Linked DNA regions of Homo sapiens: regions 1, 3, 4 and 5 are each linked to region 2. The links come from fine-mapping of genetic effects on gene expression. A gene starts in region 2. Each other region holds a variant in brackets. All regions are shown on one strand. Distances are between the middles of the regions. Region 1 overlaps MOXD1 (monooxygenase DBH like 1). Region 2 holds the start of MOXD1 (monooxygenase DBH like 1). Region 3 has its middle 30 kb from the start of MOXD1. Region 4 overlaps CCN2-AS1 (CCN2 antisense RNA 1). Region 5 overlaps MOXD1 (monooxygenase DBH like 1).

What was found. PIP is the estimated chance that this variant, and not a neighbour inherited with it, causes the effect. A credible set is the group of variants that fine-mapping cannot tell apart.
Region 1: its variant is the best candidate, but not a certain one, in a credible set for the expression of MOXD1 in sun-exposed skin (GTEx, PIP 0.77).
Region 3: its variant is the best candidate, but not a certain one, in a credible set for the expression of MOXD1 in gastroesophageal junction (GTEx, PIP 0.85).
Region 4: its variant is the best candidate, but not a certain one, in a credible set for the expression of MOXD1 in sigmoid colon (GTEx, PIP 0.53).
Region 5: its variant is the best candidate, but not a certain one, in a credible set for the expression of MOXD1 in unexposed skin (GTEx, PIP 0.87).

The regions. Positions count from the first base shown.
Region 1 is chr6:132,330,116-132,335,223 of GRCh38, forward strand. All of the region lies in intron 4 of MOXD1 (monooxygenase DBH like 1), which reads right to left. Among named protein-coding and RNA genes, the nearest start is that of MOXD1, 69 kb to the right of the region's middle. The variant C/T (reference allele first, on the strand shown) is at 3,046.
Region 2 is chr6:132,398,865-132,403,972 of GRCh38, forward strand. MOXD1 (monooxygenase DBH like 1) reads right to left here and starts at 2,611. Exons shown (of 12, transcript NM_015529.4): 1 at 2,299-2,611. The coding sequence starts at 2,562. RefSeq lists silencers at 2,315-2,364, 2,495-2,664, 2,685-2,824.
Region 3 is chr6:132,428,931-132,434,038 of GRCh38, forward strand. No RefSeq gene overlaps it. Among named protein-coding and RNA genes, the nearest start is that of MOXD1, 30 kb to the left of the region's middle. The variant C/T (reference allele first, on the strand shown) is at 3,126.
Region 4 is chr6:131,962,474-131,967,581 of GRCh38, forward strand. The region is part of intron 2 of CCN2-AS1 (CCN2 antisense RNA 1); the gene reads left to right. Among named protein-coding and RNA genes, the nearest start is that of CCN2, 14 kb to the left of the region's middle. The variant C/T (reference allele first, on the strand shown) is at 2,098.
Region 5 is chr6:132,322,278-132,327,385 of GRCh38, forward strand. MOXD1 (monooxygenase DBH like 1) reads right to left here. Exons shown (of 12, transcript NM_015529.4): 7 at 1,654-1,820; 8 at 402-593. Among named protein-coding and RNA genes, the nearest start is that of MOXD1, 77 kb to the right of the region's middle. The variant C/T (reference allele first, on the strand shown) is at 3,065.

The sequences.
Region 1 (5,108 bases), 69 kb before region 2:
CTTGTACTTGGTGTAGGTGGGCTGTAGGTGTTGCATCAGTTAGAGCAGGGGTCCCCAATCCAGTACTGGTCCGTGGCCTGTTAGGAACTAGGCCGCACAGCAGGAGGTGAGCAGTGGGCAAGTGAGCAAAGCTTCATCTGTATTTATGGCTGCTCCCCAACACTCACATTACCTCCTGAGATCCACCTCCTGTCAGATCAGCAGTGGCATTAGGTTCTCATAGGAGTGCGAATCTTATTATGAACTAACTGTGCATGTGAGAGATCTAGGCTGCGTGCTCTTTATGAGATTCTAACTAATGCCTGATGATCTGAGGTGGAACAGTTTCATCTCAAAACCATCTCCCCCATCCTCCAGTCCGTGGAAAAACTGTCTTCCATGAAACCAGTTCCCTGTTACCAAAAAGGCTGGAGACCGCTGAGTTACAGGGTTCTTTTTTCTTTCCCCTCAGAGTTCTTGGAATCTTTGTTCAGCTGATAAAGTAGCCCTGGCGTGTTGCTAAATATCCAAGAGTTTAGCCTTAGAGTTCATCAACACTTCTGTGTTTAGTCCTAACTACTCAAATTCAGGCACCGCATTTTAAAATCCTTGCTTGCTCTCTACTTTCAGCATGCACATTTACATGAAGTGTTTTCAGCTCTTTTCTCCTATGGCTTTGTTTTCCATTTTCTCCACAGTTTTTCTCTTTTCTGTAGGGAAATCTAAGCAAGGGGGGAAATGGTATGTAGTGGGTCGTGTCTGAATGGGCAGCCAAGAAATTCCAGTTTTTAAATCCAGTTTTCTTCTGTGTTACATAGCGAGTCATGCCACACCTAAGCCTCAGGTACATTTTCAACATCACATTCATGGAAAAAACATTGCACACGGTTTTGTTTGCACTTGTTTTGTCTCTAAAAGGTCGTGTGGCCTGAAGGCAGAAACTTTTCTATTTTGCTTGAAAAGGGTAGTTATCGTTCAAGCATGGTTGCATAGTAACAATGATTGCACAGAAGTAAAACCCAGAATTTCTATAAGAATTTCATTTTTATGTCTAGTTTGAGCTTCTGTCTGAGACTTGACGTTTTTGGGTTCCTCGGTCCTCCAAGGGGGACAGGGCACTGCTAAGATGTCAACAGTAAAATATTCAGGCACATGTGAGATTTTTGCTAAATACCTCATAAATTCAGGCAGAACCTTAAGGTTGTACTGAGCTCTGTAAGGTAGATCTTGGGAAGAAGCCATTAGGGCAAAGGAGAGTTGGTTACTGTCACGACAGTTTCAGAAACTAGTGGCCTTCATTGAAGTAGAGGAAGAGGGAGTGAAGGGTGTGTGATGCTGGGTGGTGCTTGACTTTGGGGAGCTTCAAATAAACAGCTTGAAAGAAACTTTTAAGAGCAAGTGCTTTTTTTTTTGTCTTCATAGGAAGTGCTAAAACTAACACCAAACTGCAAAGCTACCAATTTATCCCTGGAATAATAATAACATCTGTCTTTTATTTAGACCTACTATCTACTAGCCACATATGAATCATTCTATGTATTTCATTTAATATTTACAACAAATCTATAAGAAAGATGTTATAATCCTTATCTTACAGATTTACTGAAACTCAGAGATTAGACAACAAGCCCAAAGTACCACAGCTGGGAAAGGGTGATGGGATTTTAAACCAGGCTAGTGTGACCCCAAAGTCTGTACTTTCCTACGGCTACACATTATTGTAGGAAGCGTGTTGGAGATGCATCAAGGACCCTGGAAGTTGCTGCCGGTGGGAGGGAGGATGAAAGGCTTCAGTAAGGCAAGTTGCCGACAGCTGTCATCAACAAGGGTGATGACCTCAGGAGCCAATGCCAGAAGGTACTTCTGGAAGCCACTAGCAGGGACCACCACATGCAGATGCCCTCAGAGGTGCAGTGCCAGACTGGGAGTCTTACACCTGGGGAGGGGGCTCATGGCCTCCCTGCCACTCCAGTCCCAGTGCCCCTTGGCCTCTAGGATGAGAAGACAGACCCATGGCCTTTCAAGGTGTTCCTTCTTACAAAGGGCAAATAACAAGGCTTCTCTTTGAAACTTGATGAGGGCTTCAAGAAGAATTAAACTGTAATCTGACCTTCAGATTACAGATTGAGGGTGCAGCCTAAAACATGAGGATTTCCTAAGCAAAAACACCAACCCATAAAACAACAAGGAACCTTGCTGCAAACTTGGGTACTGATCACGGGAGGAGAGGATAAAAAGGCTTGGAAGAAGCAAGCCCTTGGCAAAATAGAAAGGATGTGAGCAAAGACAGGGAAAAAAAGAAAGAAAAAGAAGTGCTTGGAAATGACATGTAAGGATAAATATAAATTAAGAAACTGATAATATGGGAGAAAAAATTACCTGACTATCAAACTCCTGAAAAATAGAAGAATAATTTCTAGAGAGGAAATTTTCAGACCACCATGGGGATATTAAGTGAGACACCAAGAATGTTCCTTAAGGATGGACATAACTTGTTTAGTGGAGGGTACAACTTGAGGAAATGGGAGTACTTTGATCAGTGCAGGACAGGGCCATTGGCTCAAATGCTTAGCACAGGATAGGATTTCCCACAATGCTTCACGCCATGCTTACAAAGCCTGATCAAGCCAGGGCACTGCTACCAATCCCCTGATGGAGGCTGCTCGTTATTTTCTGCTCCCACAACAAGTTCTACAAACATTTTAAGCAGTCAACAAACTTGTGTTTTAAACTATGTTATGCTATTCTTCTTTAGCCAAGGCACCATCTGAGGAAGCAGAGTGAGGCACACACAGAGCTCCATGCCCCTTCCTGCTTGTTGGCTGAATGCTGCATTAACCCGACTTTCTGATGTGCTGGGTAACTGTCCACGGAAAAGACAAGACTTTTGTTTTTGCATTATTATATTACTTGTAATGATGACAGAGTTATACATTTTTTAATTAAAAATACTGAGGCTGGGCCGGGCGCTGTGGCTCACGCCTGTAATCCCAGCACTTTGGGAGGCCGAGGCGGGCAGATCACAAGGTCAGGAGATCGAGACCATCCTGGCTAACAAGGTGAAAC[C/T]CCGTCTCTACTAAAAATACAAAAAATTAGCCAGGCGTGGTAGCGGGCACCTGTAGTCCCAGCTACTCGGGAGACTGAGGCAGGAGAATGGCGTGAACCCGGGAGGCAGAGCTGGCAGTGAGCTGAGATCGCCCCACTGCACTCCAGCCTGGGCTACAGAGTGAGACTCCGTCTCAAAAAAAAAAAAAAAAAAAAATACTGACCCTGTAATGTATCAGAGTAGCATTTAAAAAGTGTTCCTTATTCTGGTTACTTCACACATTCACATTATTATCACAATCACAGGGGGAATGCCAAGAGTTGCCTCTATTCAAAAATATTAAAATTGTACGAATTATTAAAGAAAGTCATGACCATAGAAAGTATACGAATATAGATATATTGGTATTCCTGACACTGGAATGAACATTTAATTTAATCTTGCTTGTAGCCTGGCTGTATGATGGCAGAAGAAATAAATAAAAAGAAATACAAAGCAGTGCATATGGAAGTGGAGGCAAGACACAAACATGGAAATTCCCCTGATGACATCAAACTATGTTATTGATCCCACATTCTTGTACAAAGGTGGGGTGTACAGACCCAGAATGGTGACAGGCCCGTGAGCTTACCTTCTGATGGCAAAACAGACCAGGCAAGGAGGGCCTGGCAGCCGTGGGTTATTTATTAACTACTGTGTGTATTAAAGGAACAGCCCAGAAACCAGAACACAGACAGAAAGGGAAAGACTTCAACCTGAAAGAGGAAAACAGTCTCTTCCATTAGATCAAGTAACGGGAGCTTTCAGATACACTTGAGATATCTTAGCAAGAAAAGCAGAGAACAACAATAAACAGTTGCTCAAGAGTAGCCAAAACCAAGGTGGAAATTAACACTGACCATAAAGCTGACCTTGACAACGACCGTTTTTCCTAATCTCATCATCTCTTCTTACGCACTTTATCCAGGTCAAATATGCCTCACATAGCCCCTGCAGCACAAAGAGTGCTTAATAACTATTTATTGAATTGAAATAAAATGAATACTACCCTTTCCATGAAGCCAACATCAATGAGGCTGAATCATTAAATTCATTTGCCTCTTAGTTTCTTGATTATCTCCACTATACTGCATCCCACTTCAGCTACTGAATCCCATTGTCACACCCTGCCCATGAGTACACTACCTCTGAAATTCTCTTTCTGTGCCTCTTTCCTTTCCTGTTAGCTCTTTCACACTTTTCCAGTTGCTCAGCCAGCCATTTTCTCCTGGAAGGTCACTGAACTCATCACTCACCAGCACTCACAACTGACCCAAATGCTCAAATGGTGAATCACTCCTGTCATCTGCTCCTTCTCATCCTCCACTAAGGACACTGGAGATAAACTTTATACAAGTATTCGCATGAGACTTCAAAGTTCATAACTCACACTTTTGCCTCAGAACGTCAATCTTTCTTTGGTTTTGCTCTGCATTCTGTTCAGCTCCCTGAAGTGGCTATCCTAAAACCTTTCCCAATTTATGCACACCTCCTAATCAGCTCTCAGCAAATGTCTTCATTATTTTGATGAGAGAGGAAAGCGTTTCTATCCACTCTGTAGCTGCCTGAGGGCAGAGCTGGGGGGATAGAATTTGATGCAAAGGACACAATATGATTGAAAAAATCTTAAATATCAGGAACCCATTTTATATATTCATTTTTTACAATGTAGAAAGTAATGAAACGATTCAAAGAATCTACACTTGGTGGCATCTTATTCTACTTAACTTGAGCTATACAGAGTGGGATGAGACATAGAGAACCTAAGACCAAGTGACTGGGTACAGAGATAATACCAAAAAATTCTATGTGTTGCAGAATTCCCTAGAACTTAGAACGAAGAAAATGTTTCAGAATTTGAGGCAAGAAAATCTTAGGGGAAATGTATATTTCCCTTCAGTGACTGAAAGAATGAGATCTTTGACAAAACTGTGCCTACCTGCTGATCTCTCTTCACCAGCACCTACCCTGAAAACAGATTCAGTTCAAAAAGGGCTTTTTGTGAAAGACACCGAGTATTGGAAAAAAAAAAATCCGTATGGTT
Region 2 (5,108 bases):
AGAGGTGAGGTTGCAGTGAGCCGAGATTGCACCAGTGCAATCTAGCCTGGGCAATAAAGAGAGACTTTGTCAAAAAAAAAAAAAAAAAAAAGAGAATCCTATTCACTTTTTGGTATAGTTGCTGAAAATACTCTTCTCACACTAGTGTATGAAGAACCTTAAATAAATAGTTTCTAGAGAGGAGACTGAATTTCGAGCGTTGGAGAATGGAATCATTCAGCCTGAATAATAAAACTGAAATTGATACATTTATTTCATTTATATTATTTGGTGTATTTCATCTTATTAAACAGATTTTAAGTTAACTGTCTTTCCATTTAATTGAATAGCATAATTTTAATGCATTTTATATGTCCTAAAATGAGTAGAATGTTTATGGAAATGGAAGGTAAAATATGTCAGCCAAGTAAGAAAACGATCATCCTTTACATGTAAAAATGATTTTATTTCCTTAGGAATAAAAATGGACGGGAAGTCCTATTTATTGCTCATTAAATGTATTGAGAATGCAGCCAGTCATAATTTATCTCATAGTGATGTGTATTCACTAATTACTTTAAGAAAATTTCTATGTTTCAAAATCAATCTAAAGAGTACTTAACTAAGTCCTATGCAATCTCTATGAAGAACCACAAACAGGGTGAAAACACTGTAGTTTAACCAAGTTTATCTTTGTGGTGGGCCTATTATGGCATGTTGAATCAGAATTCTACTCACGGCTTTTCATTTGACATACAATTGGCTGGGCTTTCTAGAAATGCTACTCTTTGAGGGAAAATAATATGGAGTTAACATTCAAAGTATGTCCCATTTTATAATATTAGCATAGTAAGAGTTATGCTCCCTTTTGTAGAACATGCAAGGATAGTTAAGGGGCATACTATACTCCTCTCCCTAAACGGTAAAATTTCTTTTTTAAAAAACGTTAAATAGGTATTTAAATAAGGTATTGTCTACTTTATATTACAGGAGAATGAGTCATTCCCCTAGTGAGGCCTGCATTTGTGGTCAAATACTTGGTTCATAAAGTTAATGTCTGAGATGCTGCAGGAGGAGAATATTTATACATCAGTGACTTCAGCAGAATGCAATCCTCATAAAACTTTATTTTATTGGAGTTGTAAAGTTACTTATTTGGGGGAAGAAACGATTAATTTATGAAAAAATAGATAATAGAGTGGTTTTGAACTTTTTATTGTTGTCACTTTATTTCCTTCCAGAGTTAACAGCTCAGTGCCAGAATCAGCGTTCAAGTTTGATGGCATATTTCAGTCGAAAAGAACCTGGGGATAAAATTACTAAGAAGCGCACTCTAAATCCACGGAGAACACTGATTTAAATACTATCAAAGCCTTAATGCAATGCCAGAACAATTCGGAGTTTTCATCTGGATCAAGACTTTTAGCAAAGGGCAGTATGTTCGGATGAATTTTTATAATAACAAAGCGTGTACGTTCACCGCCATCCAAACGTTGGTCACGATCAAGCAAGGATGTCCAGGAAACCTAGCCACCTAATCATTCTGGTCATCTCACAATCTTCTTCTTCCTTTTTTTTTTTCTTTCTATTTAGTAAAGCACCCATGAACAGGCAAGGTGGTTACTTAGGCTCCTTCAAAGTAAATCAGCAGCGGTCAAATTAACTTTATTGGTTATTAAAGTAAGCCAAAGTTTTGTCACTTCATAGGATATTTTGCCTGGGGACCTTCGATTTTGGTCTCTAAATGTGGCTTCCTGAACAGCTCTCGGAATAGGAAAGTCCCTAAGCGATTCTTAGGGGCCCTTCATTCTTCTGGAGAATGGTGTAGCTGACATCAGCCCCGCGCCTGGAGGCTCCCAAATAGCCACGATTTGGGAAGTTCTGAGATTTCCACTCCTAGACAGCAAGTCCGCGACGTACTAAAGCGCTCTGTCCCTTCCCTCCTCTGAGAGCTGTCCCATTAGGTCCCCAAAGCCAAAGCCTAGGTCCTTCTCCCTTCCCATCAGGGATGAAGCGGGGTGTATTGCAGGTGTGTAGGCGGGGGGGCGTCTATTAAGTGGGGCGCTGGGGACAGGAAAGTGTTCAAAGAAGGAAACCTGCCTGGGGTCATCCGTGCTCGGCTTCCCTACCGCGCGCCTTCTGGGGCTCCGGGAGAGCAGGCGCTGCCCGCGGAGGCGAGAGTGAGCGTGGCCGGGGGCGCGGGGCTGCGCCAGGTGAGAGAGAGCTGCGGGCCCCGGGGACGACCCGCACCTGCGCCCTCTCTGGGGTCCGGACGGGACCGGGCTCGGCCGGGCGGGCTCCGGGAGGAGACGCGCTTACCTGGAGGTAGGGCCGCCCGTGGGCCACCCCGCCCACGACGATGTCGGCGGACGCCATGGCCCCGGTGGGCGAGAAGCCGAAGCCCACGTAGCCTGCAGTGCGCACCTGGAGGCGGAAGGCGATCTGGCTGCCCCGCTGGCTCCAGCCCAGCCAGTACTTGCCCTCCGAGTCCAGGAGGGTCCGGTGCGGATAGGTTCGGCCCGAGCCCCCCGCCGCCGTCCCGGGGAGCAGCCCCCACAGCAGGAGCAGCGGCCAGCAGCACATCCTCGGGCGCCTCCTGCCCGCCGGTACCGGCCTCCAGCCGCTGGGGAGTGAGGAGCAGAACGAGGAGCGGCAGCGGCGGCGAGCGGGAGCCCAGGGACCGCCCCTCGGGCCGGCCGCGCGCCCGCCCGGGAGGGGCAGGACCCGCTCTCCCCGCCCCGGGCCGCCTGCAGGGCGCGCCGCGTCCCGTCCGGTCCCGTCCCGTTCCGTCCCGTCGGGTCCCAGCCCCGCCAACTCTCACCCTGCCCGGCCCTTCCAGCGGATCCACTTGCAGCCCCCGACCCCTGACTTGGTCCCCGAGGTCGGGGCTCGGTGGGAAGGAAAGCGAGGGGCTTCCCGGAAAGAAAGGGAGGAGGAGGCAGGAGGAGGCAGACGCCGAGAGAGGAGAAAAGGAGGCCAGAGGCAGAGGGAAAAGGAGGAGGGCAAGAGAATCCTAGAGCGGGAAGAGCGTGGGCTCTGCGGGACGTGGGCGAGAGGTTACCAGGGAAAGAATGGACATTGACGGCAGAGAGCAAGTTTAGCCTGGAGAGGAGGAATTGAGTGAGCAAAGGGGGTAGTCTGGGGTGCGATGCACAGAAAGGCCCGTCCAGGGTAACCTTCACGTCTCCGTATCCGTTGCTGTCGACTTTCCAGAGCCTTTGTTCCCAGTGACGTCCCTATTGCAATGGAGGGACACACTTCACTTTCCCCAGCCCCCCACCTCGAGAATTTCTCTCACCCTCCCACCCTGCGGGGCCGCAGAGCTTGCTCCTCACGGCAGGAGTTGGAGCCCTGACGCTTGCCTTCACCTAGTTTTTGTTTGGTTTGGTTTGGCGTTGATGGGACAAAGTCAGCCAAACTACTTTGCCATCAGCAGAGAAGGTAAGGGGTGAATTGTCATTTGAGAGTTATATTTTAATTTAACATTCTCTTTTCTTGCTATTCCAAGTTCTGGCCATAACCATGTTTGTCAAAAGTTTGTTTTGTTTTGGTTTTGCCTCTACCTTTGACCACTCCTGTCTTTAGAATGCTAAATACAAATATGGCCACTAAAATTTACCTTGCTTATTTATTCCTTTATTTATGATCTGCCAAGTTTCCAAAAAAGTTCGAAATTTTGTCTTTATAAAAATACAAACAATGCAAAATAGAAAAACAAATAAGAGAGAATATCAGATGAGAAATATGGGTAAGAAGAGCAAGCTCCACACTAGCCACCCTACACTCCTCATTCTCTCTCCTCACCTCGTATTTCAGCCTGTTTTTCCCCCTGCCTATCTTTTCCCATAACTTTTCCAAAGTTACCGTCATGCATCTAATTTATATTCTTCTAAGGATACGGGAATATTTGATCATGTCTGGAAGGTGACCTGTAGGTGGATCTGCTTACCAAAGTGCTCAGGGACTTGCCTGGGAAGGGACTTTTCCCAAGGAGAGATTGGATCAAGGTCCGCAGGGCTGGCCAATGGCAATAGGCCAGCATCAGAGAAGAGTGATGTTGGAACCGCAAAATAAAATGAGAAATAAAAGAGCCTGCAAAGCCTTACAAGAACTGGGCATGGAGACTATGAAATATAAGTAGCTGGTGCCTCACCTCCACCAGGACCCACTGGGCAAATGTCAAGGGCAGTAACAGCCATACAGCAATGTAAGGGTGGCAACCTTAGAATTGGGTTTTTACAAGCACCATACCAGGGACGTGGCTTCAGCCATGAAGAAAGGAAGGGGGATATGGAGAGAAAGAGGAACAAAATAGGGGGAATGGAGTCCCAGAGGAGTGGCTCATGGCACCGGGTGGGACACACTCACTATCCTCTCACTATCCTGGGCAGGGATTTCAGGGAAGTTAAATTACTGCAGAGTGACTAAAGGCAAACTTTCTGTTTTGTGACCCTACTTTTATTCCTAGTGTGGAGGAACCTGGAACAAGCACATTGCTACATCTGCTTCCTGGGGTTCGTTATATAAACCCCAAATTCACATCTATTAGGACATTTTGTCTCCTTAATGAAACAAAAAGAGGTCATGCCTTCCAGAATTCTTCCCCCATTAACTGTTTTAGCTTTACCTTCCATCACTCCCATCTCACTCACCCATCGGCCTGTAGACCACATGAAAAATCCCTCTGGAATCCTCAATGGAGAGCCGTGCTATTTTGCATCACTGTGCCTATTCGCAGGGTTTGTCACTTCTGCCTTCCTTCCTTTGAAGTATTTTCTTGTCCTCCTTCTCACACTTCACTGTAAGATAGCATCCTATCTGTGGATACTATCCACGGTAGTCCCCATGGAATGTTCTGCCAGACCCCATATGGCACCCCTGACACTTCAGTGTACTTTCTGTCTACAGGCTTGTTTTCCTCCAGTAGCCTCTTTAGGTCAGGAACCATGTCTGGTTTCTCATTGCCTAGAATGTGGACATCTTGCAATAGGTGCTTAATGAATACTTGTAGGACGAGTGAACAGATGCATGCCCAGATGCTCCTGTAAGCATCCTCGTAACAAAGTTGTTCTGTGGGGGAAACCTTGGCCCCAGATGTAATTGAGTGTTCTGCATTGGTATTGAGGCAA
Region 3 (5,108 bases), 30 kb after region 2:
TGCTGGTGCTCTCATAATATTCTATTTTAAAAATTAGACGTATATGCAATGTAACATTGGAAAACTTCAGAAGGAAAAATTAATACAAGCTTTTTAAGAATTGTATTCTTCTTTAGCCAAAAATAGTCTTTTTATGTTAGTTTAATTCCACAAAACAGTATGTTCATTGGTTATTCTTCACTAGAGAGGTGTGCTTGCTATTATAAATATGAAAGTGGAGAATAATGCTAGTTTCCAAATAACAAGAATGTGATCTTATTAGAACTATTCCTTCCTCTTCTCTTACAGATTTTTGTTGTGCCAACACAATACTAATCAAAGCATGGCCATTTCTTTTATCAAAGGAATACAAAGGAATAGTTAATTTAAACAATATTGCCCTTAGAAATACTACTAGGAGGGTCGGGCACAGTGGCTCACGCCTGTAATCCCAGCACTTTGGGAGGCCGAGGCAGGCAGATCACAAGGTCAGGAGATCGAGACCATCCTGGCTAACACGGTGAAACCCTGTCTCTACTAAAAACACAAAAAATTAGCCAGGCGTGGTGGCAGGGGCCTGTAGTCCCAGCTACTCGGGAGGCTGAGGCAGGAGAATGGCGTGAACCCGGGAGGTGGAGCTTGCAGTGAGCCGAGATCGCGCCACTGCACTCCAGCTTGGGCGACAGAGTAAGACTCCATCTCAAAAAAAAAAAAAAAAAAAAAATACTGCTAGGAGATACTTACTTGGACACCAGTATGGAGGAGGAGGTTATTTCTGGTTCCAAGAACATATGGATGTTTTAAATATGCCATGAGACTATCATTTGGCCGACCAGTCAGATCTCCACACGGCAACTGAACCCTGCCAGTTACACAGAAAATGCTTGGTGCTTTGGGATGAATTCAGCTGTCAGGGTGGCAGAGCAATGAAACATTCAAAAATCACTTGAAATCCATGGTCTACGTACCAAATTGAATACATTTGTAGTTTTCCAGGATGTTTTTCATAATATAGAAAATTTAAGAAGAAAACATGTACCAATTTTTATAGTGTATTCTAATGATGAGGCCACTACTATTGTTATTTTCAAGTTAAATAGAACAGTTAATAGTTTTTACAATTCACAGTTACATGTGAAAATACTAAATTCTCCTTTCTTCGAGATAGACATATGTTATTTTATTGAGACCAACTCTGAAATGAGTTTAGAGTCTGCAATTCACTAGGGAGAAAGTTTTTCAGGGTGTGTACAGGGGCAAACAGCAGCATGTATGTGAACCTGCTTGGAGGCAGGGAAGGAGCAGAGATGAGCCTGCCTTTCATCCGTCCTTCTAACCTGCAGCCCTGAGACGGAGCTGGCAAGCTTGTATCTTCTCAGCACATGGAACCCATTTTGCTGAGTTTGTAAAAACCTAAGTACATGTAATTTTCTTGGAGACAAGTTTCCCAGGACACCTGTGCCTGCATATGCTATTCCAGTAGGTATTCAGGCTATTGTCTTCTAGGAAATCTGAATTACATTAATTTAATAGTAATTAATGCAAGAATGTATATACAGATAATAGAGTAATAAGCAGTTGTTTTGAGGTCACAGGGACAACAGCCACTGAGAAGACAAAGAGACTCAGGTCTCAGTGGAAGGTGAGGAGGAGAAGACTGTGCTAACCTTTAGAGAATCCCTAAACTTGAGTGATGAACATGAATTTGGGCTGATTCTCTTTATTCATATACCACTGGAGATAGTAAAGTTGTGGAAGGGGTAGAGTATTGCAAGTGAAAAGGGAAGTCTACAAGACAATACTAGAGACAAGTAGGACCCTATGCCCTTACATGCAAATAACTGAGTATTTATCCCTCTGGGCCCCTGCTTCCTCCACACAGAAGCCTGAGAGGAACTCATTATGTTAATTTCTTAGGATATCTTTTGAAATATAGGATAAAAGAGTTAATTTCCTACTCCAAGGGATGGTAGCTCCATATACCTACTCATATGGCATCCAACATATCTTCACTCCTAGCTCTATCTCCTAAACTGTGGGTCCTGGAATATGAGTGCCTGAGACACTATATGCATCATACACACTCCGCTGCCATCTCCAAATGGAAAAAATAAATATGTATTGCCTGCCTACATATTACTCACTCAATAAATACTTTTTGAATGTAAAGTGTGAAGGGCAAAAATATAAACAAGGAACTCAGTCCCTAACTGAACAACATCATTCTGCTATGAATTTTTTAAATTTATTTTTATTGACACATAGTAATTGCACATATTTATGGGGTACAATGTGAGGTTTCAATACATGCATACATTGTGTAATGATCAAACCGTGGTAATTAGCATATCCATCACCAATTTATTGTTTCTTTATTGCAAGAACACTAAAAAAATCCTCTCTTCTAGCTATTTGAGATATAAAATACATTATTGTTAGCTGTGGTACCCCTACTGTGCAATATGGTATCAGAACTTATTCCTCCTATCTAACTGTAACATTGCACTCATTGACCAACCTCTCTTCATCTCCCCTCTCCCCCTTCTCCCAGTCTCTGGTAACCACTATTCTACTCAACTTCTATGAAATCAAATTTTTTTAGGTTCTACATACAAGTGAGATGATACAATATTTGTCTATCTGTGCCTGGCTTATCTAACTTAACAATGTCCTCCAGGCTCATCCATGTTGTCACAAATGACAGGATTCCATCCTTTTTATGGCTGAATGGTATTCCATTGTGTATATATACCACATTTCCTTTATCCATTCATTTGGTGATGGGCATTAAGGTTGATTCCGTATCTTTGCTTGTTTTGAATTTTTTTAAATTCTGAGGTCACATATCTATATCCATAATGTATCTTGTTGTACACAAGATTTAATACCCTATTTTACATTAGAAATTCAATAGATTACCTGGGTAAAATATTTTTATGTGTTTCCTTTCTTTGTGTATTCTGGGTATAAATTCACAAATTTGTTACTCTATTGATAACTTATTTCCCAATTATGAACCTATCAAGTGTTCACCTTTTTGTTTTAAAATCATTTTAAGTGGGGAAATGCTTTGAACTTAAGTATAATGCAAATGAGAGTTAAGATTGTTGTCTGCTTTGGACATATGGCTTCATTTAGCATGTTTA[C/T]ACTTATTGAACTTTTGGGAAAATATAATTGAAGAGAAGTAATATGAACATAGAATACAGTTTACTTAAGTCTTTATAGACCTCTTTAAACTCATTAAAAACAATCTATAGTGAATTTTCTTAAATGTAAACAATGTTGATTTTCAAATGTCAAAACTTGCTCACTCAATCATGTTCTTTCTTCAGATGGAGCCAAATGGTGTAGTCATCACCATTGTACAATATAATTTTAAACAAAATCTGAGGCTGCAAACAGAAAATGTCTCTTTATTTCTATTCTTCTTTAAAAGTTAAGTGTCAAGAGGTTTAGAAAGCAAATTTGGTGTTTCCTAATATTTTCTTCCTTGTAGTCCTTATTCTAGATATTCAATGTCTCTTAATTCTGTCATTTACTGGTTTAAAATATGCTTTTCAATATTTAGATATGTTATTTGCTGGACTAGTTGACTGTATTTTTTTCTGTGAAATTATATATATATATATATATACACACACACACACACACACACATATATATATATACACATACATATCTCCATTTTTTCCTGTATTCAATTGAGTCAAATTAGATATCAAGTAATGTGAGTGAGATACAAAAAAACTTAAGACATTTAAGTATTTTGCTTAGGAATAAACAAATAAGCATGCCATTCAATGTTTCAAGTTCTGCTTTAGAGAAAAATCATGGCATTATAGTTGAAATTAAAATGCATATTAATTATGTGTTAGGTTTACTCCATTCATCCTGCATGGGGTTGACTCTTTGAACATAAATATGAACACAAGTATGTTTAAAAATGATAATACCACAAATACCCTCAAAAGTATAAACCAGTTAAAACAAGTTTTCTGATACACCAATGCTAAGATTATAAATGAATCTCGGTAAGCATGGCTAGACATACCCAGAGTCATGTACCTCCACAGGAGCCAGAAAGCATACCTCAAAGGGGTTAATACAAAGGTGGGCCTGCCTGACACACAACAGGCTGGCGAACTACATCACCAGTCGGGTGTCTGGATTGAAAGAAGAGTCAATTTACTCACTGAAGCTTTCGATTGAACCAATAACCTGTTAAATTCCTGAGAGACTCCCTATTGAAGCTGAGAAGAGAAAGCATCTTTATCTCTGCTAAACACACTGCAATCTTCTCTCAAGTGGGACAGCATATTCCACAGAAGAAATTTCAGTTTTGAAGTAAAGGGAGCCAAGGGCTACTTCCAGGTCAATGTGTTTGATTCACTTTTTAAAGTTGTTGTCTTCTTATTACCATTATTATTTGAGAGATGATAAACTCATTTAACCCATAATGCCAGTTGATATGGTTTGGCTGTGTCCCCACCCAAATCTCGGCTTGAATCATAGCTCCCATAATTGCCACGTATGTAGGAGGGACCCAGGGGATGTAACTGAATCATGGTGGAAGTTTCCCCTGTACTGTTCTCATGGTGGTGAATGAGTCTCATGAAATCTGATGGTTTTACAAGGGGTTTCCCTTTCACTGGGCTCATTCTCTCTTGCCTGCCACCATGTAAGACATGGCTTTGCTCCTCCTTTACCTTCCACCATGATTGTGAGGCCTCCCCAGCTATGTGGAACTGAGTCCATTAAACTTCTTTTTCTTTATAAATTACCCAGTCTTGGGTATGTCTTTATTAGCAGCATGAGAACAGACTAATACACCAACCAAGAACCAAGACATAAGGAGGATGTCATAAGAGAGCACATGTTCACACAGGAATGTTCACAAGATGTGTAGATGGGAGAGCACAAGTCATGGGACCCAGATGAGTCCCCTTTGTCCCTGGGGCAGGGGAGTATTGGAGCTGCTTACCCTCAGTCACAGAGACTAGGATGCCCAAAGATATTTTGGGGGCAGGAGACAAATCACAATTCATCTAATCTTCTGTTATCAAGTAAAGTGCTTTTCTAAATATATTAATAGATGGAGACGAGAAAATCAAATCTCTAATCATTTAGTT
Region 4 (5,108 bases), 440 kb before region 2:
CTCATGACCTTTCTTCAAGCCAGTGCCTGCCTTAGTTGTTCCTATAGTGTCTGCCATACATTTGTGGTCTCTAGTCTCAGATGTGTCCTCGGTTCTACTATGTTGTGCTTTTAGTTGCTCTGGTCAGTTCTTTGCCATCCTTTCCTTTGTGTCCCTTCCAAGCCTAACTGCTTCCCTCCAAGGTCCTACCCTGTCAACCCTTCCTCTGCCTCCCTGCTGATCAGCCTTCCTTTCTACATGAGACTACCAGGTGTGAAAACCTCCAGCCTTTGTCTCCAGGATTGATGGGCTCTCAGCTTCCTATTCGCTTCTTTAGTTTGAGCTGCAGTGTTCAGTTCTACAGCCACTAGCCACATAGGGCTATTTCATTTAAATTAACCAATGTTAAAATTCAGTTTTTCAGTTGTACTGGTTGCATTTCAAATACTCAGTAGCCATGTACAGCTAACGGTTATTGTTTGGATGGCATGGAGAACATTTTTATCTTTGCAGAAAGTTTGACAGAATAGTGCTGGTTCAGACAGACCTCCACTTGGGCTTTAGATCCAAAAGCATAAGTCTCCTATGGAACCATGTCACATATGGAACCATGTGCTCCTTGAAACCTATGGAACCATGTCTCCTATGAAACCATGTGCTCTTTGTAACCTGTGGAACCATGTCTCCTATGGAACCATGTGCTCCTTGGAACCTGTGGAACCATGTCTCCTATGGAACCATGTGTTCTTTGGAACCTATGGAACCAAGTCACCTATGGAACCATGTGCTCCTTGGAACCTATGGGACCATGTCACCTATGGAACCATGTGCTCTTTGGAACCTGTGGCACTACATCTCTTATGGAACCATGTGCTCTCTTTTCTTTTCATTTTCTCCTGTCTTTCAATTTGTTTTTCTCTAGCAGCTTCTTCTTCCCAACCTATAAACATGGCTACATTTCTCTCACATAATAAAGAAAAACCCCAAAACAAATGAAATAAAACAACCCTCCCATTGTCTTAACAGCCTCTTTTCATTGCTTGTTTTTGCACTGAAGCTCCTAAAACACACACATACTCACACAGTGACACACAAATCCCCTGTGTTTACTGTCTCCAAATACACACCTTCATATTACCATTCAACCCATTGTAATAAAGCTCCTGACCATGGCACTGCAAATTATCACCAAATAACCTCTTTGTTGCCAAATCCAGTGGATTCTTTCCAGCTCTCATACAATTTGATCTCTCTGTAGGTATTTAGTTGAATCCCATTCTGTCCATCTCTTTGACCATTTCCTTTGTTCTCCTTTGCAGACTCATTTCCCTCTGCCTACCCCTATGATGTGAGTGACCTGTAGTCTTTTGTCCCTAGTCCTCTTCTTACATATTCTTCTCCTGTCACATTGTTGATGGTTGCCTGCTGTCTGGATCCCAACCGGAAACTCGGTTCTGAGTTCATTTGTGCTATTAACAACACATTAATCTGAATGTCCTATTCAGATGTTAAGTAAGCATAGTAAAAACTAAATTTGTTACTCATCTCTACTTCAAAATCTTTTGCCTTTAGATGTGAACCCATCTTAGTGATTAGAACACTGTCTTCCCAGTCACTCCATACTGAGGCTTGTATGTTGTCTTGTATTCTTTTTTCTCTTTCAGTCCTTATATTTGATGATTCATAAAGCTCTGTGGACTCTACCTCTCATGATAACTTCCTAACACATCATACCCTCAACATCTTTTGCTTGGACCACTGAATTAGTCTTTCTGCTATTAACTGGTCTTTTAACTCACACTATTGCCCTCCAATTCATTCTCTCCACTGCTGCCTGAGAAATCTATCAATCTACAGTGCTTATTCACCTGCTTAAAACCAAACCTTTGTGTGGCTCCCATTACCTCTAAGATAAGAGCCTTTGTCTGGCTTCTATGTTCTCCATTCTTATCTATCAGTTCCAGGGCTCCTGCCCTATTCTTTGGTTTTACCAGTGCATTTGAATAACTTACACATTTTATCATGCTGTTTCATGGCTTTATAAGTTGCTCACGATTGCTCTCCAGCACTTGGAGCAGTGGCTAAGTATGTTCAATCACATAAACTATTTTTTTTTTT[C/T]TTGAAACAGGGTCTCACTCTGTTGCCTAGGCTGGAGTGCAGTGGTTATGGTTCATGCAGCCTCGACCTCCTGGGCTCAAACAATTCTTCCATCTCAGCCTCCAAAGTAGCTAGGACTACAGGAATGCACCATCACACCTGGTTAATTTTTAATTTCTTTTTGTAGAGACGGTGTCTCGGTATGTTGCCCAGGCTAGTCTCAAATTCCTGGCCTCAAGTGATCATCTTGCCTCAGACTCACAAAGAGTTGGGGTTACAGGCGTGAGCTGTCATGCCCAACCCTAATAAACTTTTGACTCTAGTAGGAAGCTTTTTTTCTGTTTGATCCAGTAAATATATACTCACACATACACATTCACAGTGAAACAAAAATTTTGTAATTTTATCGTTACTGGATGTGATGCCCTTGGTATTTTAAAATACGTTCCATTTCATTTTAAAGAAAATTCTAGTCTTCATCTCCAAGTTTATTCTACTGTCTAATTGACATCTTGGAAATAAGAGATATATATATATCTTTATATATATAAATTATATATGTAAATTTATATATATTTATTATATATACGTGTACACGTGTGTGTGTGCATGTGTGTGTATCCTTGGAATACCAAACGATCAGCATAAACTATCTGAATAAGCAGCTGAGGGAGGTAGTGTGAAGATGTGAGGTCTGGGGATGCTCTGGACATTCTGGGAGCACCTGTGGTTGCTGGGAGACGAATGTGTGGAGTTTAAGAATGAAAGTACTGCAGTGAAATACAGAGCATAAGCACAGAAGAAAACCTTATTTTTGGTACTAAATCAAGCCTTGCCTAAAGTTACTCCATCTCTCAATTTATCAATTTCATGAGCCAATATGTTCCCCTAACCCTATTTTAAAAAGTTCTCGATATTGTACCATAAAATGTCCTAGCTGATACAGACTTCACCAGTGTGAGAGAGGCATAATTTTATTTTCATATTGATATTTTCTGATGTAACTATTTATATAATTTTCTAATTCTATTATAGTATTAGGGTAGAGCAATGCTTTTCAACCTTTTTTAACATAATGGAATATGTAGAAAATGATAACATTTTAATGACATTTTGGGGCAAAGACTTTCTAAAATCTCTAAAATTCTGAAAGGGAAAGGGTATAGAAACTCTTCTGATTTAAAGATATCAAAGATCATCGGAGGGCTTACTGGCAAATTGCTACCATTTTTTTTCTTAAGTTTTTAGGTAATTTAAGGTTTTTCTTGGAAGTTGACTTCTGAGTATTTGTGAATAACTCTCACATAGCATCTGGTACAAACAGATCTACCACTGAATGAATTTTTTATGTAAAGTTTGGGGACTAGCTTGAACTTTAAAATATTATAAAATTTGGCTAAAACTGCATAATTACTAAGGTCTTAGAAACTATGATAATTTATAAAATAGCTATTTATATCAATTCATAGGTAAATATTTTGTATTTATTGATTATATAAATAAAATTTCTGAGGCTTATGTATTCATACCTGGTAAGTTTGTGTTCTTCAGAATATCAGGAAATACCATGTTTATTTTATTCTAACCGTAATTTACTAAAGTAAATAATTCTCTAGAAAATTGGCTAGTAACACTAGTAGGTGTTTAGGAAAAGTTGCTGATTGACTGGCTGATAGAATATTAAAAATCAATGCGGCTGTCAAAGTTGCCTAACCTTAGGCATAAGAGGATCTTAGTGTGAAATGCTTCCAGACTAATAAATGTATTCAACTGTCCCAAATTAAAAATCAGTGAGTCATTTATTATTGTTTACCTCTCAATGAAATAAATAAGTCACAAATATTTTGAGCATTTGGTCTGTTTCTAACATTGTGTTAAACACAGCGAGATGTAAAAAGATACCTGGTTCTTGCTTACAAGGAGGTTATGATCTATTTGCAGAAGCAAGACGTATATAGACTAAAAGTTCAACCAGTGGTCCTCGCAATTGTGTAACTTGAGAACCACAGGACACAGAAAACTCTGAAGGATTGGTGTAACGCAATATGTCATGACCCTGAAATTAGAATTTCTGAGGCACTTTGAGGCACAGATGATGATAGAACCACACACCATGAGGCTTGAGAGCTCTTTCTCAAGTGTCGGTGAGTCAGCAGAGGTCGGTCATTAAGTGGAAATAGAAGGATTTAGCACTAAGTGTTCCACAAAGGAAGAAATAACCAACCTGAAAAAACCCAGCCTGACGTTTTTTGTGGACATAGCTGGGCCAAAGGATGAAGAAGAGAGGAGCAGCATGGGCATTTCAGACCTTAGTAGTGGGGACAACAGTCCTGACTTTGGGGATGCCGTGGCACATGGAAGAGAGTAAATGGGCCATTTTGACCTGGGTCAACATGGGGATTGAAAGATTAAGGAAGGGACTGCGTTGTAAGAGCCAGAATCCTAATTTTTTCTTCTTTCTTTTATTCTAATGTTGAATACGTTGCTTTCATTTCCAGTCCTTTAGTTTTTTGAAATACACACACACACACACACACACACATCTCTAACATACATATTGCTCTATACTAATTCAGGGATTAGCAAATGTTAAGAAGACATTTACTGACTTACAGGGTAAAATGAAGAGAGCCTCAAAACTAAGAATTAGTAATACTGTAATTTTTGTTAGGCTTCTGTTTCTCCTCTTGCTTTAATAAACAGTATGTATGTATTTTTTTCTTCCACAACCTGCAAAATGCCAGGCATATGGAAAAAATACAAGGCACAGTAAATGCGTATTGAATTCAGGGACCCTCTTTTATGATTCTCCATGATTCCTACAATGATGCTTGGTATGCAGTGGACATCCAGTCACTATGAAGTAGTGGAAATATTTATATTGATGAGAAAAAAACATAGCTAAAGCTGTTACTTGAGAGGCTAGCTCACAAATTTATCATTAGTTCATTCATTCATTCATTCATTCACTTAGTAATGGGTGCATTCACTGGACACTGCTAATGTGAAGACTAATGGTGATTTTTTTAATT
Region 5 (5,108 bases), 77 kb before region 2:
AAATGAAACTTCTAAAAATATCCTATCTCTTCAACATAGCATAAAGACACCTCTATTTTACCACTGCAGGAATTGCAACCCAAAGAATCACTAACTGGAATGTCAAGTATAAAAAAAGAGTAATGTTTAGTCCTCAGAACCTGAGATTTTTGTTTGGGGTTGTTTTTATTTTTCAGTCAACAACTTGAATTGCTCCTGGGAATTATAAGAAAAATGAGTTTCAATTTTGGAAAACAGATCAAACACATTCCATCTGGGTTGTACAACACCCACAGTGGGTGGTGTTAAGAATACAGATGCAAGGAAAAATTCATTTCACTAGTAGAAACCTTGCCACATCTCAGCAGATATGTCTCATGACTTTCATAACAGTCAATGAAAAAGAACAAAAACATGCATACTGGTAAGATTGTTTGTTCTTCCTTTAGATACTGAAACTCCTGGAAATTGAAGTCAAAATCATCATCATAGGCAAGTAATTTCATTTCCTTCCCTTTTCGAAAATGACGCAGCCTGATGCCTCTGCCAGCCAGGTGAGCATGGAGAAGAACAGCAAACACATGAATTCCACTTGGCTTTTCGGCTTCCAGAGCCTACAGGAGACACCGAGGAAGACCCGATTAGCCCACATTAATGCATGTTCAGACAGTTTACATTCAAACACACTTGGAGGGACAACTGAGATAAAAAGCTAAAGCAATTTAAATGAATGCTTGAACTGAAAAAGAGTTTGAATTCGGATTGTTCAGTGTTCTCCTTGTGAAGCAACATTTGCCGGGAGAAAAGTAGGGGAGCTGATGCTTATAAGGGGCCTCCCAGACCATTTCTACATGTTATCCTCCTTTTTCCTTCTTTTAGGAGGATAAGAGGCAATAAACATTCTTAGCAAAAAGATTCCAGTATGTTAGTAACCTGAAAACCCAAATTCTTAAAAGGAAATATTATTCCCACTTTTCCAGATAAGAAAGCGAAAGTGGGTCAATGGAATTAAATGAATCGCCCATGGTCCTACAGCTTGTAAATGAGGTCATGGCAATTTGAATTATGAACTATGGCCTAAATAACTCAGAAGAGCATAATCTTTCCACTTCACCAGTCTGCCATACTGTCCTCAACCACAATATCATATAATTCATAAAGAGTATGATCCATGTTGAAATATTTTCATTAAAAAACTTGAAGTGAAAATTGTCATTACTAAATATACTTTTCTTCTATCCTATATATTTTTTTATATTAGTTATTTTTGCTCTGTGGTGAAGAAAGGGAAGGAAACTATAAGGCAGAGAAAAATGAAAATAAATGATGGAAAAATCAATATGGATAAAAGGTAAACTAGAGAAAAGAAAAAGACTACACAAACAAAGGTTGAAATTGTAAAAGATGATATACAGCATGCAACATGCAACAAACAAAAAAGGTAGGAGTAAGAAGAAAAACACCCTGCCAACTACTTCTGTCTTTAGAGTTCTACTCCTGTAGCTTCAAGATTTAAAAAAGCAGTCAAAAGTCCTACTAAAATTGCGATAAGGGTTTCACAGTGTGTCAACAAGAAAGGAATCGATAATAAACATGTGCGGAATTTTTCACACCACAGTTTCTAAGAGCATTGATGAATCTGCAGAGAGCAGCTCAGACTCAGATGCTGCATACCTCTTCCAGGCACTCCAAAGTGCAGTGACCCTCAGACTGGAACTCAGGCATCCCTGGAGGGATGGTATGGAAGAGGCTCACCCAGAGGCCAGCCTCAATCACCCCAGCATCATATTTCCTTATATCCATTGTGTAAAATAACCTCAGTCCAGAATTATCTATTAAGCCTAGAACAAAAGCACATAATTAAAGTGATTTTTGGTTCTTAAAATGTTTTCATTCCCAAGAAAATTCTTGGTTTGAATTTTTTAAAGTTTTCATATTCTGTTGAAATAGGTTTATTTATTTTCCATAAACTGTCATGAGGGAAAGGGATTCAAGCAGAGATTAGTGGCAGACAACATTCAGTTTCACAAACAAGAGTTAAAAGATGAGTAGCCATATTGCCTGCAACCTTTGTGGACTCACACAGCATACTACAAGAGAAATGTTTCCGTTATCTGGCTGTTATATTCCACAATTATCTAACATGAAGACAGAATGAAGATTCTAAAGTCATTCATTAGAATATAGAATAAATAACTTAATAAAACTTTTATTTTATATTGTTTCGAGATGAAGTTCAATAACATTTACTTTGAGGTAAAACCTCCTTAGTTTAGAAACCATCTGCTGAAGAAAAAAACTACTAAAGATTCACTTTATTTCTTTAAAGTTTGTCACCATTTTCTTCTTCATTCAACAGCCATTCAATCAACACACAGTCATTAAGAATCCATTATGTAAATGGCACTCCATTAGGCATTGTGGGGATGAGAGATGAATAAGACACACTTGTCGTTATGAAATATTCATTACAGGGAGGGAGAGTATGAGCCCCAAACATTTCATAAATTCATTTCATTAACTTGGAAATTAATTGACTTCCTTCTGCAGTAACTAACAGATTGATTCCTTCCCCTCAGTTTCCTTTCTTGTCTCATTTAAATCAATCAGCTTAATCTATTTCTAGTCAATCATTTTTAAACACAAGGTCTCTATATCAAATATTCCTCATTGCATGTTATATACCCTTCACTCACAAACACACACACACACACACACACACACACACACATACTTAGAAGATATCCATTACTTTTAATTTTTTTCAGATGTAATAAGTTGTTAAAATTAAGTATTTCAATAATTATCCCAGGAAATTCTTACCTCTCAACCTCCCTAACAGCCTTGGAAAAAAATCCAAGCTTTACTTTCCTGCTTCATGAGTTTGTAATTGTGAACATAAAATATTTGCTATGTGTTTGTTGACTCCAGCTTCTTCAGATATTCAGGGTCATCACAAGGAAGCACTGTGATGTGACAATTAAGGACACTGACTCTGGAGCTGACCAACCTGGATGCAAATCCCAGCTCTGCTGCATATGAGTTATGTCACCTGGGGCAAATGCTATGGTTAAATGTCTATCTC[C/T]TCCAAAAAGTAGGTTTGAATGTTGTTGAAAATTAATGGCCATTGTGATGATATTGAATGGTGAGAGCTTTAAGAGGTGTCTAGGTCATGAGGGCTTGGCCCCTGTGAATCGATTAATGCCATTATTTCAGAAGTGGCTTTGTTCTCTCTTGCTGTCTTTACCCTTCCACCATGTGAAGCCTACTGCCATGTTATGACCCGTAAGAAGGCCCTCATCAGATGCCAGTACCTTGTACTTGTACTTCTCAGCATCCAGAACTGTGAGGAATAAATTTCTGTTCATTATAAATTACCCAGTCTGTGGTATTCTCTTATAGCAGCACAGAACAGATGAAGACATAAAGTTACCTAATCTGTGCTTCAGTTTTCCAGTATGGAAAATGGCCATAATAGTAGCACTACTACCTCATAAGTGTGATGTGTGGCTTAAACACCAAGTTCTAAGAACAGTGTTTGGCACAAATGAGGTGCTCAATAAATGGCAGCTAGTCACACGTACAGTGGTCACACATCTACCAGGGTTTCAATCAATTGTTAAACAAATAAATCATAAAAATCAATTCTCCTTTTGTGTTATTATCAGTGCAGATACAAATAAGCATGATAATGTAGAATATCTATACTGACCTTAGAATTTTCTCTGGACATATCTTGCAAAATTTTGTTTTGTATTTTATATTTTTGGCATCTACTTCCTTATAAGTTTGACAGGGAAAAAATATAAGTAGAAATTCCAGTTGCATTTTGTATAGTTAGGTTCATTAGTTGCATTAGCTGTTTGGAGCATTAATAGATAATCTAGTAAATAAAGTAATAATTTCTTAAGCACATATAAAATGATTATTAAAAAACTTTTCTGGAAACAAATTCGTATTATGTTATATTTATAAAAATAAAATTACTATAATCTAAAATTTGGTCTAATTATGTACATGAATAAAAATAGAAAGTACTAAAAATCCTGAGTTCTCTATTAACCTGTTAGGAAAATAAGCTTATGTTTCATTTTTACATTGAAACTATGAGAAAGTCAACTTAATTGACAACAGAGAAGGCAAATAAATTAAGCCTTCTACTTTTGTAATAAAGACTAAAAGGAAGAAGTAGTTCACATAGAATTTCCAATTGGAGAAGTATTATACATTGTATAGAATATTTATTCTATTAATAATTTAAAATCAAAAATGTAAAAAATTTTTAAAAGTTGCAATATAAGACATATTCAATAATTAATCCCATTGTTATTGTGATGACAATTTTTATGTTTTATAGTCACATATGATTTCACGGAAAATCTAACTTTTAGAATTTATTAATAGGTTATTTTGCTTGGTTTATGAAAGTTTTAAACTTTTAACATAGATTCATGGTTCAGAGTATGGGATATAATTGGTGGGTGGAAATTAAAGTGAATTCAGAGAGAAACTATTTCCTATTAATTACTTTAGGGTAAAAAAAGATACTTTATTGGCTTGCTCACAAATAGAATAGCTTGACACCTACTTTTATAGAAACATCACTCTTTAAATATCATACCACGTGTCCTCTCTTCAAAATCTATTATTCATGCTGCTGCAGCCAGAGTGGTCTTTTCAAAATACAGATCTCAATATTTGACTCCACTGTATCAAACTCTTCAATTGCTTCTCATTGTCTTCAGGGTAAAAATCCTTAATGGGTCCTACAAGATCTTAGATGGTCTGCTTCAGCCTTCCTCTGCAGGTTCATCAGCATCTTTCTTCACTGCACCCTAACCCTTCAGCATCTCCAGTCACCCAGATGAACAGTTTGATTCTTTAATGAAGACTTTTTAGCCCATCCCCACCAATACACACTCCTGGCTGGATTAGGTCACCAATTAAATACTCTCATAGTGTTAGGTATCTTCTTTGGACCAATTGGCATACATATAATTTCATATGATTGCTATGAAAAATTGATTGTTTCTTTTTCACATTGGGCTATAATTTCTGTAAGGGTGAGAACAGCATCTGTTTTTCACTCACTCTATATCCTCAAGCACAGATCTGGCACATAGTTGGAG